Homo sapiens: one gene and its partner. The protein of the gene in region 2 binds, or shares a complex with, the protein of the main gene of each other region. Each region holds a gene or a part of one and is shown on either strand. Other genes may lie near its edges. A codon is read from its position in the direction of its gene.

Region 1 (7,549 bases), on a different chromosome or scaffold from region 2:
ATGGTTTAATAGCTTCTCTGAATGCCAAGCATAAGATACGCAATAAAGCAAAAGATTTTAAATACTATTTCTTGAACATATTTGTATTGTGAAAAGTCGATACTGTAATCATTATATCTCCAAAACCAGAATTATTTGATAAAGCTGTATTAAAAGTCATATATAGAGTATGAAATAAATTTTGTTTAGTGAATAAGTTTTTGATCCTTTAAAGATTATTATATTTTTTCTATAAAGATCTAGAACAATCTTTTAAAATTAAGTTACTATCAAACTTTTGCCATGTAGATAAAATTGGTAGCAAAATATTTTTACAATGTTTCCAAATATGATCTAGTTAGAAATATATAATGATGCTATTAACTGAAATTCAGTTAGTGTTTATGTGTTTATCAAATACTTTGTCCACATTAATCTGTAAAGCAAACAAGGTAATCATTTTACCTTTATATTATTTTCAATTTTTTATGAAATTTTATTTCTGTTATGCATGAAAAAATAGTATAATATGTGCAGGTGAACATAAATATTCTTACAAATATGCTAAGTATTGTCTTCATTTAAAATTCATTACATGTTCGGAGTCACCAGTGAGAAAACCATATGAATCTTGCCCATTCATTTAAAATAATTTTTAAAATTACAGACCCAGTATTATTTTAAACAATGTTTTTGTTATTCCAATTTTTCAAAGTGAATGAACAGTTTCATATATTATAAAAATCTACATATTTTAACTTTTAGTATAATGCTTTGGTATGTAAGATAGAAAAAAAATCTTGTAACAATAATCAAAAACATTATCTCTTTAAGAAATAGAATATTTCAGGTAAAACATATTTCAGCTCACATTATTCACATACTATTTCAATTCTATGTTTCATTTTACATATTTAGCATTGACTGTAGGCTCAATGCATTGATTTTATGATGCTACAAGGAAACATCTTCTAGCAAAGTAAATTCATTTCTTTATGGCTAAAAGCATGCATTGATATTCTGATATTTTCTTATCATTAAAGAAAGCACATTTTGAATACAATAATATGAATTTTTATTTCAAACTTCCAGTTATGTCCTCAAATATTTCCTTTGGCTAATGACCTTCAATGTTCATCGCCTAGTGTTTTTCAAAAGTATTTTTGGAAAACAAAGATTATAAACCATACTGTTAGTAAACTCATAAAAATTTAATCAAATTATACAAGAAAATTATGGGTTTGGGACTAGCAATTAAACAAAAATTAAGGAAGTTTGGAGAGTTTCTCATTATAAAATATGATCATAATATAATACCTCCTAAGAAAATAATCTGAATTAAAAATAATGTTGTTTTAATTTTTGTTACTAACCCACGTCATTGGGTTAGTAAATGTGTTGTTTCCACTTTCTCCCCCATTTATATAATGGCTAAAGTCACATTCTAAAAACACTTTTCCCATTTCTACACATGTGTCAGGGAACTCAGTACAACTGAAGATTGAAAAGAGAGAGAAATCAGCCATGATACTCTTAAAGAATCACAAATCTAAGAATTAATTTAAATTTTCATTATATTGAGGAATTTGTGGAAAAATTGAGTTGTAAATTACTGAGGAGTTACTCAGGATGTTTGTAGTCTATTATTAATGTGCCAGATATAAGTGATTAAGTACAGGATGCTTCCAATGCAGGACATCTTGGAAAGTATAATTGCATTTAGGTAAGAAAATATATAACTTAAAAATCATATCTATCAACATCATTTAAAATTTGACATCAAACTTTCTCCAGCAACAAATTTGTGATATATCTACACAAACAATTTATTAAGCAGACATTAGTTTCTTAAATTGTTCAGGACAGTCTGTACTATCGGAATGAGCATTAACAGATGTTTTATCCAACATTTCAGTAAGTTCCATCCTGGAAATTCTTTTTTAATAAATACTTTAATTTCTTTGTTTAATCGTCTAATATACTTCTTTGGGAAAGCTGTCACGTTTCTTTATCCACAGATATCGTGGTATCACACCCCCCTCCAAAAGCTTGCAGAGGGGAACCAGTCAAGTTGAAGTATTCTCTTAAAGATTTCAAAATTAAGAATTGTTTTAAAAATCTACATTTCCTAAACTCTAGGTTTTTTTTTTTCTTTGTAGCCGACACCATGATCCAAATAAAGAGCAAACAGTTCAGGGTTAGCAGAAGAGAGATTTAAACACATCTGGCAACAATGAACACAAAAATTAGTTCAGTAGTTACAGATATATGTGTAAATAAAGGTGAAAGGCAAATAAAAGCAAATGTAATAAATACAAAGTGATTACTTTTCAAAACTCTGCATTATGATCAACCACAGAGTAAGTGAGACTCCGAGACCCATTAAGTAGTTATTCTTTCACCTCTTTCTTACAGCTGATAACATGGAAAGTTTAAAGACCCTTCCGGGGGGAGAAATGTTTTCCAGTTGTCAAGATTCAAGCTTAGCTAATATTAGAGCTAATTTTAAAAGACATTGTTCTGTGATTAAGGTATTTGTTCAGAAATATGTCTTTTAATCCATTTAGATTTTTAATACTTGCTAAATTTATTTTCTAGAATACCATGGTAAACAATATTATCTAGTAGTATTAGATTTTGTATTCATGTTGGGGTAGTAGGCTGTATTTTCTCTAGCATGTGAAATAAGTGAGACTATGTTTCAACATTATTTCAGTGCTATCTACTAAATTCTATAATAGAAACATTGCCAAACTATATGAGAATACTACTTAGAATAAATATATTTATTTTGAATGTGCACTTACCCAGTCCAGCTCTTAAGGAAATTCTTTGTGAAATATTCTCAGGATGGAACTTTACTTTCTGAGATTCCGCAGAAGAGATTTACCCACAAGCAAGGTGGGAAAGAGTGAAAGCTTTGCAATGTGATCCTGCAATTAGGATGAGATTCAGTTAGCAGAGCTTGATGGTCCTAAAGCAGGAGGTGACACTCTCTGCTGGAGAGAGAGAGGTTGTTCTGAGTAGATTGTAAGTGTTGTCAGATTGTAAGTGATCAGCAGCAGAAGGGAAACATCAGAGCTTCCTGTTACATCACTCTGACCCCGCCTGCAGTTAGTGTTAGGTTACTTTCTTTCTCAAATAGCATACCCCAGGAAAGCAGCACTCCTTTCTTATTGTGAGACAAGAGCAAGAAGCAGCCTGAACAGAGAGAGATCATAGGCTGTGTGAATACATTGTTACCAGTAAAAAGCTGGCTGGCTTTCACCTTGACTGAGTTCTGTTAGAACTTGCCAAACAAGCTACTTGTGATTTGAAGGAAATCTGAATATAGTATTCTGCTCAAAGAATCAAAGGAGTTAGGCGTGTGTGTGTGTGTGTGTGTGTGTGTGTGTGTGTGTGTGTTGAATTATAGCTTACAAAGTATCCAGGAAAAAAAATCTAACAAATCTGTGTTCATAGCACAACACAGAAAAAAAAATTAACTGTATTCATCATAACTGGTTTTGTGATTTGGCTCTTCTTAATTTGGAGCTCTGCTAATTGGGTGCTGTTCCTCCATCAGTTCCTAAGTGCAGTTCCTAATCAGTTAATTAGATCAAGAAACTTTATCCTGCAGTTTTTAAATCTTTTATTTTTTCCTTTACCTTCTTCATAAGAACATGAGTGTATGTGTTATAAATTCAGGTTGTGTATGTGTGTGTATAGAGTGTTTCTTTTATAATATATAAGTATATATATTTGACAAAATAGCCTTTTGAATAATTCATAATTTTAAAATTATTGCACACATTTAAAAATATTTGGTATAATTATGTTATTTATAATATAAAATAATTTATACCACAATATTTGTAAGTCAATATAATCTTAAAGAAAATATAGATGTTGTAAACATAATATTATAAAATAATATAAATACAAAGGATACTTTATTTCTTAGACAAAATTTCATCTCAAAGCATAGTTTTTCCTGAATATGTTTAATACATCATTGGATATGATCAGGGGAAAATGTAAATTTAAAATGCTTTTATCATTTTTATAATTTGGTAAATGTTCGATATGAAGCAATAATTATAATCCCTATAACCTAAACAGCACTAAAAGTCACTTAATTTATCAGGGCATAAATTTTCTCATCTATAAACTAGAAGAGATAGATTTTATGTCTAAGGCTTTGAATCGACAAATTTCATAACATTTTGAAATAGATAAGATACGGTGAGGATCATTCAACTCTTAGTAAATTGTTAGTGCAATTCCAGGATAAAATGAGGTGCCATACACCTTGTAGGCAGACAAAGGAGGTAAAGGCAAAATAAATTCAGGAATATCATGTTTTTAAAGCAGGGTGCTCATGTTGACATTTTTATTGTCTGAATTAGTGGAAGAAAATGTTTATACAATCTTTGATTTTAAGACCAGTGAGATCAATATTGATTACAAAATACAGACATATAAAAAATAGATATACTTTCATCTCTATAATTATGGTTAATAGAAAAGACTTGTAAGAAACTGAGTTACACTGGTGAACCGGTTCTGATACTGTCTGGTGTGATCTTGACAAAGCTTTTTAGGCTTCATGTTCCCATCTTGAAATTCAGAGAAAAACAAATACTAGATTTAATATGAAAGTAATAATGGGTCATGTCTTCTCATCTTCCATGCTAAGTGTAATATATGAATCCTATAAAGAGATTAATATATAGTTTTTGAATTTAATTAAATCATGGAAAACTAAAACTTTTCCCAATATGTTTATAAAAGCATTGATATTTTCGTCTTTCCAAAGATTCATTTTTCTTTCTTTCCTTCCTTCCTTCCTTCCTTCTTTCTTTCTTGATGGAGTTTTTGCTCTTGTTGCACAGGCTGGAGTGCAATGACGCAATCTCAGCTCACTGCAACCTCCACCTCCCGGGTTCAAGCAATTCTCCTGCCTCAACCTCCCAAGTAGCTGGGATTACAGGCGCCCGCCACCACACCCAGCTAACATTTTGTATTTTTTTGTAGAGACAGGGTTTCACTATGTTGGCCAGACTGGTCTGAAACTCCTGACCTAAGGTGACCCGCCCACCTTGGTCTCCCAAAGTGCTGGGATTACAGACATGAGCCCCTGCGCCTGGTGAGATTCATTGATTTCATTTGCCCAATACTAGTAAGGTCTACTGAAGGAAAAAAATTCATGTTTTGAGCTCATGTCATAAGACCCTTAATCCAATGCTCTTTCTCTTCTACTCTCTATCAAGTGCTATACTTTATGGGGTGTCTAGTAGAAGTTGTATCATTTATATTTAAGTTGACGTACACATGGGCCCATGGCTGTAGTCCATGAAGACTCCTTGATAAATTTTATTAATATCATCTTTAATTCTTATTTAGACATAACAGGAAAATTGCATCCTAGTAATCCTCAAGAGCTGCCATTTTATAAACTTCAGAAAAAATAAATGGTACAAGGACTTCCAGGAAGGCATTCAGGGTATTCTAAGTTATGTAGGAGCAAGTGATAAGATAGATCATAAAAACTTCTCTAATACCTACTGAAACATGAAGGCAAATGTTTGGAAAACTGTAGCAGAGCTAAATGAAAACATTTCAATAATCAATGAAGCAATTTTGAGCCAACGTGGCATTATATGGATTTATATATTATAATCTTTCTTCAGAAGACATTAAAGCCACTTGCAATAATTTAATTAGTAGTGACCAAATTTGTATTTTGAGCTAGGTAATGTGCTAACTGTGTTTTAGTGAGATAAGTAAAAATAGAATGTTCCCTGCTATCTAGTCCTTTAATGAACAGATTGACTAGCACATGAGAAGTCAAGGGCCAAATTCTGTGAAATTAGCAACTGATGCTGCTAACATAGAATCTAGAGGTAATGATGCAGAGCACTGCAATAAGGTTTTCTGTAGAAGTGAGGAGTGGTGTATAAGTGTAGAAATATATACATGTAATGATGGACAGTCACACATTTTCATTTTAGCATCCTACATGCAGGATTTGTGCTTTTATTTGTGCTCACACATAAGGCTCACAAGCGACCTTTTCTTCCAATAGGGGATACTAGTTACTATGTCAAATGCAAGTTGACTCAAAATTAGGAGTAGGCTAACTCCAAGTTTCTGGGCTACTGTTTATATTGAATATGTTAGTTAAACCAGACCAAAATGTGGTTTGACAAATTTAATTTTCTACTGACCAAACTGACCACTTATTTTGAATTTGTATGGATACTGCCTTGGAGCATAATTCTTGCCACAAGAACAAACAAAATAAAGCAGAACACTTTTACAGGAAATATATTAAGGACAGACTTTCCCTAGTGAGAGTGCAAGAACAAGTCAAAAGAAAGACTTTTAAAATAATTATTCTGAAGTTTTAAAAGTTATTATTTTATGTTAATAATTCTTCTGTGTTCTTAATTGTCTGAAAGCAATTACTTATACTTGGTGATAATTTATGCAGTCAGCAATATTATATATAACTTGCCTTATGATAAATGCACCAATAATTTGAGGAGAAACACATAAACTTTACATCAGAAGCTTATATGTTTAAAAGCTTTACATTAAAAAACTACTTCTAGCAAGGAAATAAGTTGACCCAACCTTTTATTATTTTACCTAGCAATTGCTGTTAGCACTTTTCAAGTTGCTTTTCAAAACAAAAATAAATTGCATTTAGTAAAAGAATCTGGGTACAATGTCTGGGACATGAGAGTGAATATGCTATTATCTATTACTAAAACCAAAGGGCCGTTTTTCACTTTAATTGGGCACATAGCTATCATTTTAAAGAAGATTACAATATTATTTTAAAAATAGTTACTATGAATAAGAATTTGGAAGGTGCAGAAAACTATGTTTGAAATGAACAGTATATATATCAGGTCAGATATACAGAAATGTATACCAGGTTAATATACAGATAAATAAAACTATTTTATAGCCTATATGTAGAGTTTCTTTCAGTATTTAATAATGTATTTTCTCAAGAAAGCCAAGTAACATAAAAAATAATTGGCCAAACATTTGCCTATTTTAAAAATTCTTATATCCTGATGGATTTAGATCTTCCTGCGAACTTAGTATTTTCTTACAGATATTCATGAGTGTTGGAGGGGTGGCTATTGCTAGAATAAAGTGCTAGTACTGGCTAGTGAGCTATGTCATGGACTAATTCAAATGGATTTTTAAATCCAACAAAATTATAAATGCTTACTTTAAATGGGAGTACACAATGAACTTTCTGAGGGGAAATACCTTCAATAGAGTGATCATATGTCCTAGTTTTCTGGGGCAGTCCCAATTCATAATTTCAGGCTCAAAAATGCTCTGGTTTGAAGAAAAAAATATTATTCAGTATATGGTGAACTTAGCCATACTTATCAATAGAGCAATGACAAGTAGCACATAAATACTAAGAGTGTGTGAGTAATTTATTTGGGAAACCCAAATCTTCTTTCCAGAAGAGTTTAAAATAGTTCTTACTATTTCTAGGATGGTTTTAGTTAGCATCAAAAAAGATGCCCTTTTTAATTCTGGATATGCATTTAATGTG
Region 2 (7,641 bases):
GCCAGCGGCCCGCGGGCGCTCAGGCCCGGGCAGACCCGGGGTTACTAGGGGTTACTGGGTTTTCCGGAGGTGTCCCCACGCATTGCTAGGGCGGCTTGGAACTTTAACAACCGCGGCAGGCAGGGGGAACGCCTCTCTTAGAAGGCCTCAGAGACCACCCCAACTCTTCGAAGCTCGCTTTCGCGCCGGGTTCTGTGAGCAACCCTATAAATCTAGGACTCCGTTGCGCAACCCGAGAGTCCAGGCTCGCCAACCCACTAGGGCTCCCCCTACCCACCCCCCGCCGGCCGCCACGCCAGGCGGTGACCTCGGGCGTCTCCGCGAAGCCCTGATTCGCACCCAGGACACGTGTTCTGCGCGCCCCACACAGAGAACAGAGCTCGTGACAGCTCAGCCCGCTCAGAGTAGGGCCAGCACCTGCACGCGCCGCTGTCCCACCTTCCCAAGCCCGGCGGCGGGACCCCAAGGCTCCTGGGCGGGCCGGGACCAGGGCACCCTCCCTTCCTAGACGTGAGAGCCGAGCCGAGAGAATGAATCAGCATTGAGACAGTTTATTGGTTTGCTGTTCGCATATCACCCATTTTATGTAAATAGATTATACAGAGACTCGGTGTTTCCTTCTTCCACACAGGAGGTAATCAGTCTTTCTCTTTCATGCACACAAACACACTCACATTCCACGCGGCGAACAACTTTACACCTCGCTGAGACATTCACGTCTTAAAATAGGGGAGGACAATATAATTGCTTTTAAAATGCCCTTAATACAATATATAACGTACAAAAATATCTCTATATTTGAAGTTACAAAAAAAATCTTGACAGCAACAAACTTAAATATTGATAGTTACCTCTGTATGTACAACACGCATTGCACTTTTCCTCTTTAGGTTTTGGAAAGTTCAAGTAATAGTGAGGCTTGCGCCCTGGTGGGGTGACACGCCGTGAGAAATCAGTTTGTGGGCGAGCACGGCTGTGGCTCAGACCCCTGCTCCGGGGGTCTCAGCATTCATTTCTCAGTTTCTCCTCTCCTTAAGCCTGGCAAACACTCGGATTCTTCTGCACCCCGCCCCCTGGGGCACTTGCACCTGAGCAAGGCTAAGGAAGCGAAGCCCCCAGAAGGAGGGGCCCTTGCAAAGCCAGAGCTCGCCGCCGGACGGTGCCTCCCGGACTCAGGGTCTCCGCAGGGCTGTCAGAGCCCGGTCCCCACACCGCTCGGGAAGTCCTTCGTCCCGGGAGGCACCAGCGGGATGCTTGCGCGACTATTCCTTGTACCATGGGCGCCTAAATCCTAAAGAAAGTGGGGAGCACTTCCACTCGGGGGGGCTGGAGCCCCGTGTGCTTGTGGCTTAGAAGACACCAGAGTCCGACCCGGGCCGGCCTCGGGCAGGGAGCGCCGGCGCCGGCGGCCGTAGCCCTGGGGGCTGATCTTGCTCCTGGGGGCGACGTTGTCCTTGTCCTTATCTGTGAACTGGTAGATCTGGTGTGCCAGCTTCTGCACCGTGCACGTCCCGAAGCGGCAGCCAAAGCTCCGGAGGCCCTGGAAGTTGTTCATGCTCTGGCGGTAGCGCTTGACTCGGATGCGGGCGGCATCCGGACTGCTGCGGGCGGGGGGAGGGGGAAGAAAGGCAACTTGAGACCCCATCAAGCAGAGCTTTGGCCCCAACACCGGGAACGGGAGCCATTCTAGAGCCAGAGGGAGCTGGAAACTGCTCGCGCCATCTGAGCTGCGGTCCAGCCCCGACGATCCCCCGGGCCAGGGGAGTGGAGACAGAGAACTCCTCCCGCACACCTTCCTTCCCTCCCGTCCCTGGACAGCACAGGGCGTAGTTACCTGTCTTCGGGGCTTCGAGAGGCACCCTTCATGTCCTGGGGCCGAATAAGGGTCTGGGCAGGCCCGGCCTTCACGTCAGCGAGCCCGGTGGGGTAGCTGCTGGACATCCGCAGTTCCCTCTTCCCACGACTCAGAGCCCACTTATTCCACCTGGAAAACACAAGCAGACCCGATTCGCGTGCGTTCAGGTGACGCCCAGGCCTGTCCCTGCTCCCATTCACTTCTAGACCTTCGGGACCAACGGTCAGTTCCCCTTGCCTGCCAGGTACCAGCAAGGGGGAAGGCGCTGCCCGGACTCACTTCTTTCGAAACTCCGACGCGACATCCAACCGAGCGGTGTCAGCGCCTAGGAAGGCGAGCGAACCCAGGTACATCAGGGCGACGGAAACCAGCTTCATCCCGGCTGCGAAGCGCAGACCCTGGAAAAGAAGAAAGAGAGTCGAGCGTGAGCACCCGGGCCAGCTGCACCGCCCGGGCGGGGCACGGAGGGCGGGCAGGGGCCCCGGCGAGGCGGGTTTAGCCCGCGCTTTCCCTGGCTCAGACGCTTATCTCCCTCCGCGCAGAGAGGCGCCAGAGGCGTTTGCACGCGCCGGCCGGGTGACAGGCCCCGCAGGGGAGGCCGCTGCACCCCGCCAGGCTCCCAGAGGGTCTCTGCTCAACTTCTTGGAACTTGGCTGACGGAGCAGAGGGGACTGGGTCTCTGGACCTCCAGCTGTGTGCACGAGCTGGGCCCAGGATATGGGGTGTATCTATCTCTCAGAGAACCCTCCAAAGTGGGTTGTTCCCCTCACCCAGCGCTCCCAGTTTAGGGCCTTGGCAAGCACTGCCCCCCACCCCACCTCTTAACCCGCAGGGTCTGCGGCACCTACCTGCTAAGAGAGTGATCTGCCAAGTACTTGAAGGAGAAAGTCTCAGACGTCCCACTGGCAATGGCAAAACTCCGAAGTCCAAGCCCAGCTGCAGTGAGAAGCCCGAAGTGGCAAGGCTTGAGCTGTTCTATCCAGTGTCACCAAGAAACCACTGAGTGGCCAGCTCTGGTTCCTGTGCTTTATAAGCGCACGGGTGGGGGAGCGGCGGGGCGGGGCCTGGGCTGCCCGGTTGCCTTCCCTTTCTTTCCTCAGCCACGCGCGCTCCTGCTCTCGGACGCGCGCATTGCTTCCTTTGGGGCTGGAGTTGGGATGGGGGGAGGGGGGAGCGGGGGAGAGGAGGTCCCTCGTGCCCAGAGGGCTTAGGTATGGGCTCCAGGCGGTTGGTGCAGGAACTGCCACAGCCCTCTTTGGGCACAGGGTTCAGACAGTACGCCGGAGCGAAGGGGCGCCACTACAACCTCTTGAGGTCCTTATCCAGGACCCATGCGGCCCGGAGTGCAAAGCCTCCTGGCGAAGAACAGCAAGAGCCCGCGGAAGGGACAGCGCGGATGGCCCGAGCCCTGGACCTGGGGAGCTGTGGCCTCAAGTGGACCGCGCCCCCCTGCCGGCTTGGCGCCTGACCGGGCCGCGACCCCAGACTCCCGCGGAGGGGCCGGGGCAGGGACGGAGCAAAGCCGAGAGGAGCAGGACTCACTAGTCCCCCAGAGGACCAAGACCCCGGCGTTTCGGGGTGAGCTAGTAAGATTTCACGGTAGGGACAAGGCTCAGAAAAGCTAAATTGAGAATTGGGATTTGGAGGGGGGAATTATCTGAAATTTCAGAATTTTCATTTCTATTTGGAAACATAGGAATAACCAAAATTAGGAGGAAATATACTGTTTCATTTTGCCTCCTTGTAATCCTATTATGCCTTATAAGGTCATAACCTGAGATTGTGCCTGGCTGCCTTCATTAATCCATCGTAAACGTGAGGACTGACTGCCAGGGAGCACACTAACGCTTCACGTATGCTAATCATTTTACAGTTTACCAAGCACGGCCACATCCCAGTCTACTTTGAGCTTCACAGCCACCCTTGAGTCAGGCAAGGAAGGTAACATTCCTTTTCCCATTTCAGCAGGTAGAAAATTCAAGCTCAGAGAGGGGAGGTATCTGCAGAGAGGGGAAGTCACCCTGCAGGTAGGAAGCAGCAGAGTCCCTACTCGGCCCGACACGCTAGCACGGCCGACTGGGGCGCGGCGTGGATTCCTCTAGGCTGGGGTCACCAACTTCTCAAGGGGCAAAGGAGAGTCCTAGCCCCCGCCCAAAGAATTTGTGCCTGTTCATGATGAATCACGCTAGACACGTTTGTCACCCGTTTGTGCTCTTTCATCACAGCTTCTTCTCTTTCTTACTTCTCTCCTGGGGGCCAAACTGGGAAGGAAAGGCTAAGCCACGGGGCTTCCTGCTTCGTGCTTGTGGGTTTCTGGGGTCCTACTAACCACTCCTCTAATCGAATGTCCTGAAGCCCAGCGACTCGACGGAGAGGCCAAAGGTGCGAGACCACTAGCCAAACAGGCTTCTAGTCCTCACCTCCCGGCAATTCGCTGTGTGAAGGTGGGCGAGTCATGTCCCATCTCTCGAGTCCCCATCTTAGAGCCGGTCCCCAGCAGACCTTTAAGCTTCCTTCCTACTCTGCCATATGGCTCTGAGCTCCGGTGCAAAGGCGGCTGGGCAGTGGGTCGCGCGGACCTTGCCCAGAGTGGTCTGTCTGGGCCGCGCACTGCTGGCTTAGCTGCCTTTTCACTCTCGGGACTCAACAGTGGACATTGCACCTGGGGAAGAAATGGCCGCGCGGAAGTTATTTAAGGACTCTTCCTGGAAGGAGTCACCTGAGCGGACCTGAATTCCATCTGAGGACGGAGGACAGATTCCGGGCCCTGACCCTGGCCCTGGTAAGGGGTTGGGACGCGGAGGGTTAGAGGAGTGCAGCGCGGCGCACTGGTCTGGATCCGGCCGCCCGGCTGGGCGCAGGGCAGTCACCGAAGTGGCCTGGCCGGGCGACTAGTCCGTCTGCACCGCAGACAGCAGCTATTACTGAACGCCTGCTCGGTGACCAGGAGCCTCCCCAGCCTAACTATTGTTCTTCTCCCTTGTCTCCCATTTCCTTTTCCTTTCACTTTATCCTCTGCGAGTCAAGCTCTTCGCGCAGATCCAGGACTGGCTATCAGTCGCTCTGAGGATGCGACCTACTTGTCGCCAGCTTCCACTTGGTTCCGCGCCAGGACAGGTTTTACTTTCATTTCTCCCGCGCGCGCCTCCGACTGCTGGGGAGGTCAAGGACAGCTAGGCGTCGGCCCACGGCCAGGGAAGGTCCCGTGGTCTGGACTCGTTCCTTCCAGTCTCCACCAGTCCTGGGGGGTGGGGCGCGGCGGGGGTGTTCGTTCTCCAGAGAACTCTGCGACTGTACCTCGCTGCCACCTCGCTGCCTCCTCGCTGCCCTTTACAAAAGCTCGTGATTCCGTGGGGGAAACTTGAGCTGTGGCTCTGCCAGGAGGATCGCGAAGCAAGTGCCCTTGGTTCAAACTCCTCTTTGAGCTGCAGGCAGCTTCAAAAAGGAAAGCAAGCCCAGGAGTGTAGGGAGACTCAGAGGCTAGGCTCTGCCAGCCTCGGGTGCCTATGCCAGCAACCTCTTGGCTGTGACAAGAATTCCCACCTGAGAGTCTTGGCATGCACTTTATCAGCCTGGTGCACTTTGCCGCTCTGGCACTTAGAGATCTGTCACTTGAGAACCAAGTCAATTCTTTAAGTAAAATCTTGGATTGGCAGCTCAAAGTATTTTCCTAGAAAGCCCCTATCTTGGAGTGAGTGAGTGTGTGCGCGAGCGCGCACCCCGCTTGCATGGGTGAGTAGCAGGGGCTAGAGTGCTCCCCAAAGCTTCGTGGGTTTAAGTCGAAAAAAGATAAGGAGTTTGTTAAATCTGGGCATCTATGTTTTTTCTCGTGAAATCTCGAGTTTGTTTAATTAATCATCGTTAACGACAAAAAAAAATCACTAGAATGCATTTCTGGTTCAGTGGTTCTATGGAGAAGGAAATGCTGCAGTGGGAGTTCTGATCCTGGCAATTTATTAACATAAGTTGCATCCATTCAAGTGGCAGTGATTGTAGATTCACGTTGAGCAAGGACAGTACAAGGAAGGAAGGAAGTGAAGGAAGAAACATCTTTAAATTTCTGGCAAGAAAAGAGAAAAGAAAAAGAAAAAAAAATCCTTGTTAATGAAGATCTACTTTTTTTGTGTGCTCCAGAATTTCAAAAGGTCAGATTACAAATAAACCTCCAAACCACTGTAATAAATGTGTACATCCTGACATTAGGGAGACACACATACACATATGCTAAAGGGTTTTTGCGTAATGGTGTTTCAACTTCTTCACATTCCAATTGAATGATTTTTAGGCCCTATATCCAAGCCTGATTCTTAGTAAAGTTTGGAGTTTAAAAAAATATGTGGTAGTGGTTTCTCAGCTAGCACTGTGGACACAGTTCTTAAAGCCAGAGTGGCCATACTCAGGTCTTTCAGAGAAGCATTGAAAAATAATAAATATCAATGATATTAATAAGAATAACTAAAATGTGAGTAGCTAAGTGCATTGCATAATTATCTCAGATGCCTCCTTTATCAAACAGGAAATTTTATGATGCATTTATTATTAATATAGTTCAAAATGTCTTTTAAGCTGAGGACTTGTTTACAAAGTTCACTTGAAAACAAAGTTCAAGATGCATCCTGAAGTCATAACACAAAGTGATTTAGAGAAAGAACACAATCAGCCTTGTGGATTTGATCACTTACAAGGAGAAGTAAAGCAGGATACAAAGCCCAGGGCACTTTTTTGGGATCTCTGACTTCTCTAAGGACCTAATAAAAATATAGATCCTTTCCAGAAAAATGAACATGTACATAAACCGATTAAAGTATAAAATAGGCATACAGTTCCGGGAGGTTGACCAAGTTTAAAACCCTGACACAGAATAAAAAACACTGTTTCCATATTTTAAATTTCTGTCTGGTTTATAGTGGTAAGGGCAAGGAGGACAGTTAACCTCCCTCTTTAGGGCATAATATTTTCCAGAGCATCAGCATAAAGAAAAGTAATGCGTTTGCTGCCTCATTTTTGTGCTCCTGTACAAAACAGGCAGAGAGTAACAGTCAGTTCTTGTACATGGTAAAGCCAGAAGGCAAACCTCCCTGAAGCTTAAATAAGGTAAATTACTGCAGAACAAATGAAAGAGAAGAGATGGTCCAGTACAGTGGCTCGTGCCTGTAATCCTAGCACTTTGGGAGGCTGAGGCAAGTGGATCTCTTGAGCTCAGGAGTTCAAGACCAGCCTGGCAACATGGCAAAAATCCATCCCTACAAAGAAAAAAAAAAAAAAAGAGAGAGAGAGAAGAGAAAGTAGTAAACCTAAAGAAGCTTGTTACAATAATACCTGTAACAGGACAAAATGAAATTACTTCAAGAGAAATTTGCTACAGAGGGCACAATAAATGGCATTAATGAATGGATGATAAAAGAGATGATTAGGCCATTTGAATCATCCATAGCCAAAGAGAATGGTGTTAATGAAAGCAACCATCATGCTACTTGTCTCCAGATAGGGATCCTGTGATATCAGATTAGAAGCACCTGGAAAGAAGCAATTATTTTATATATGTATATATATTTATATATATTTTTTTCTTTTTATAGAGATGTGGTTTCATCATGTTGCCCACGCTGGTCTTGAACTCCTGATCTCAAGAGATCCACTCGCCTTGGCCTACCAAAGTGCTAGGATTACAGGTATGAGCCACTGTGCTCAGCCAAGAAGCAATTCTGATTTATAAGCCTGAATGAATTGATAGTTTTTTCATTCTTTCAACAAATATTTACTGATTATATATTATATACCCAGCA

What was found. The genes of interacting proteins can lie anywhere in the genome.
Region 1: the proteins of ADM (region 2) and CALCRL are in contact, whole or in part, in a cryo-EM structure (PDB 6UUS), measured with the Homo sapiens proteins. Residues at the interface, in NP_001115.1 of Homo sapiens: Cys110 (codon at 1,522), Arg111 (codon at 1,519), Phe112 (codon at 1,516), Gly113 (codon at 1,513), Thr114 (codon at 1,510), Cys115 (codon at 1,507), Thr116 (codon at 1,504), Val117 (codon at 1,501), Gln118 (codon at 1,498), Lys119 (codon at 1,495), Leu120 (codon at 1,492), Ala121 (codon at 1,489), His122 (codon at 1,486), Gln123 (codon at 1,483), Ile124 (codon at 1,480), Tyr125 (codon at 1,477), Gln126 (codon at 1,474), Phe127 (codon at 1,471), Thr128 (codon at 1,468), Asp129 (codon at 1,465), Lys130 (codon at 1,462), Asp131 (codon at 1,459), Lys132 (codon at 1,456), Asp133 (codon at 1,453), Asn134 (codon at 1,450), Ala136 (codon at 1,444), Pro137 (codon at 1,441), Lys140 (codon at 1,432), Ser142 (codon at 1,426), Pro143 (codon at 1,423); in NP_001258680.1 of Homo sapiens: Val36, Thr37, Asp70, Gly71, Trp72, Asp90, Tyr91, Phe92, Gln93, Asp94, Phe95, Asp96, Pro97, His114, Ser117, Thr120, Trp121, Thr122, Tyr124, Thr125, Asn128, Val135, Ala138, Leu139, Leu141, Phe142, Thr145, Thr191, Leu195, Ala199.

The regions. Positions count from the first base shown.
Region 1 is NC_000002.12:187,445,253-187,452,801, forward strand, and holds the start of CALCRL (calcitonin gene-related peptide type 1 receptor precursor), read right to left. Parts: upstream 3,001-7,549; 5' UTR 2,787-3,000; intron 1-2,786. UniProt on the Homo sapiens protein: G protein-coupled receptor which specificity is determined by its interaction with receptor-activity-modifying proteins (RAMPs). Together with RAMP1, form the receptor complex for calcitonin-gene-related peptides CALCA/CGRP1 and CALCB/CGRP2.
Region 2 is NC_000011.10:10,300,292-10,307,932, reverse strand, and holds ADM (pro-adrenomedullin precursor), read right to left. Parts: upstream 2,861-7,641; 5' UTR 2,704-2,860; intron 2,254-2,703; 5' UTR 2,233-2,253; coding exon 2,135-2,232; intron 1,985-2,134; coding exon 1,835-1,984; intron 1,602-1,834; coding exon 1,292-1,601; 3' UTR 536-1,291; downstream 1-535. UniProt on the Homo sapiens protein: Adrenomedullin/ADM and proadrenomedullin N-20 terminal peptide/PAMP are peptide hormones that act as potent hypotensive and vasodilatator agents. Numerous actions have been reported most related to the physiologic control of fluid and electrolyte homeostasis.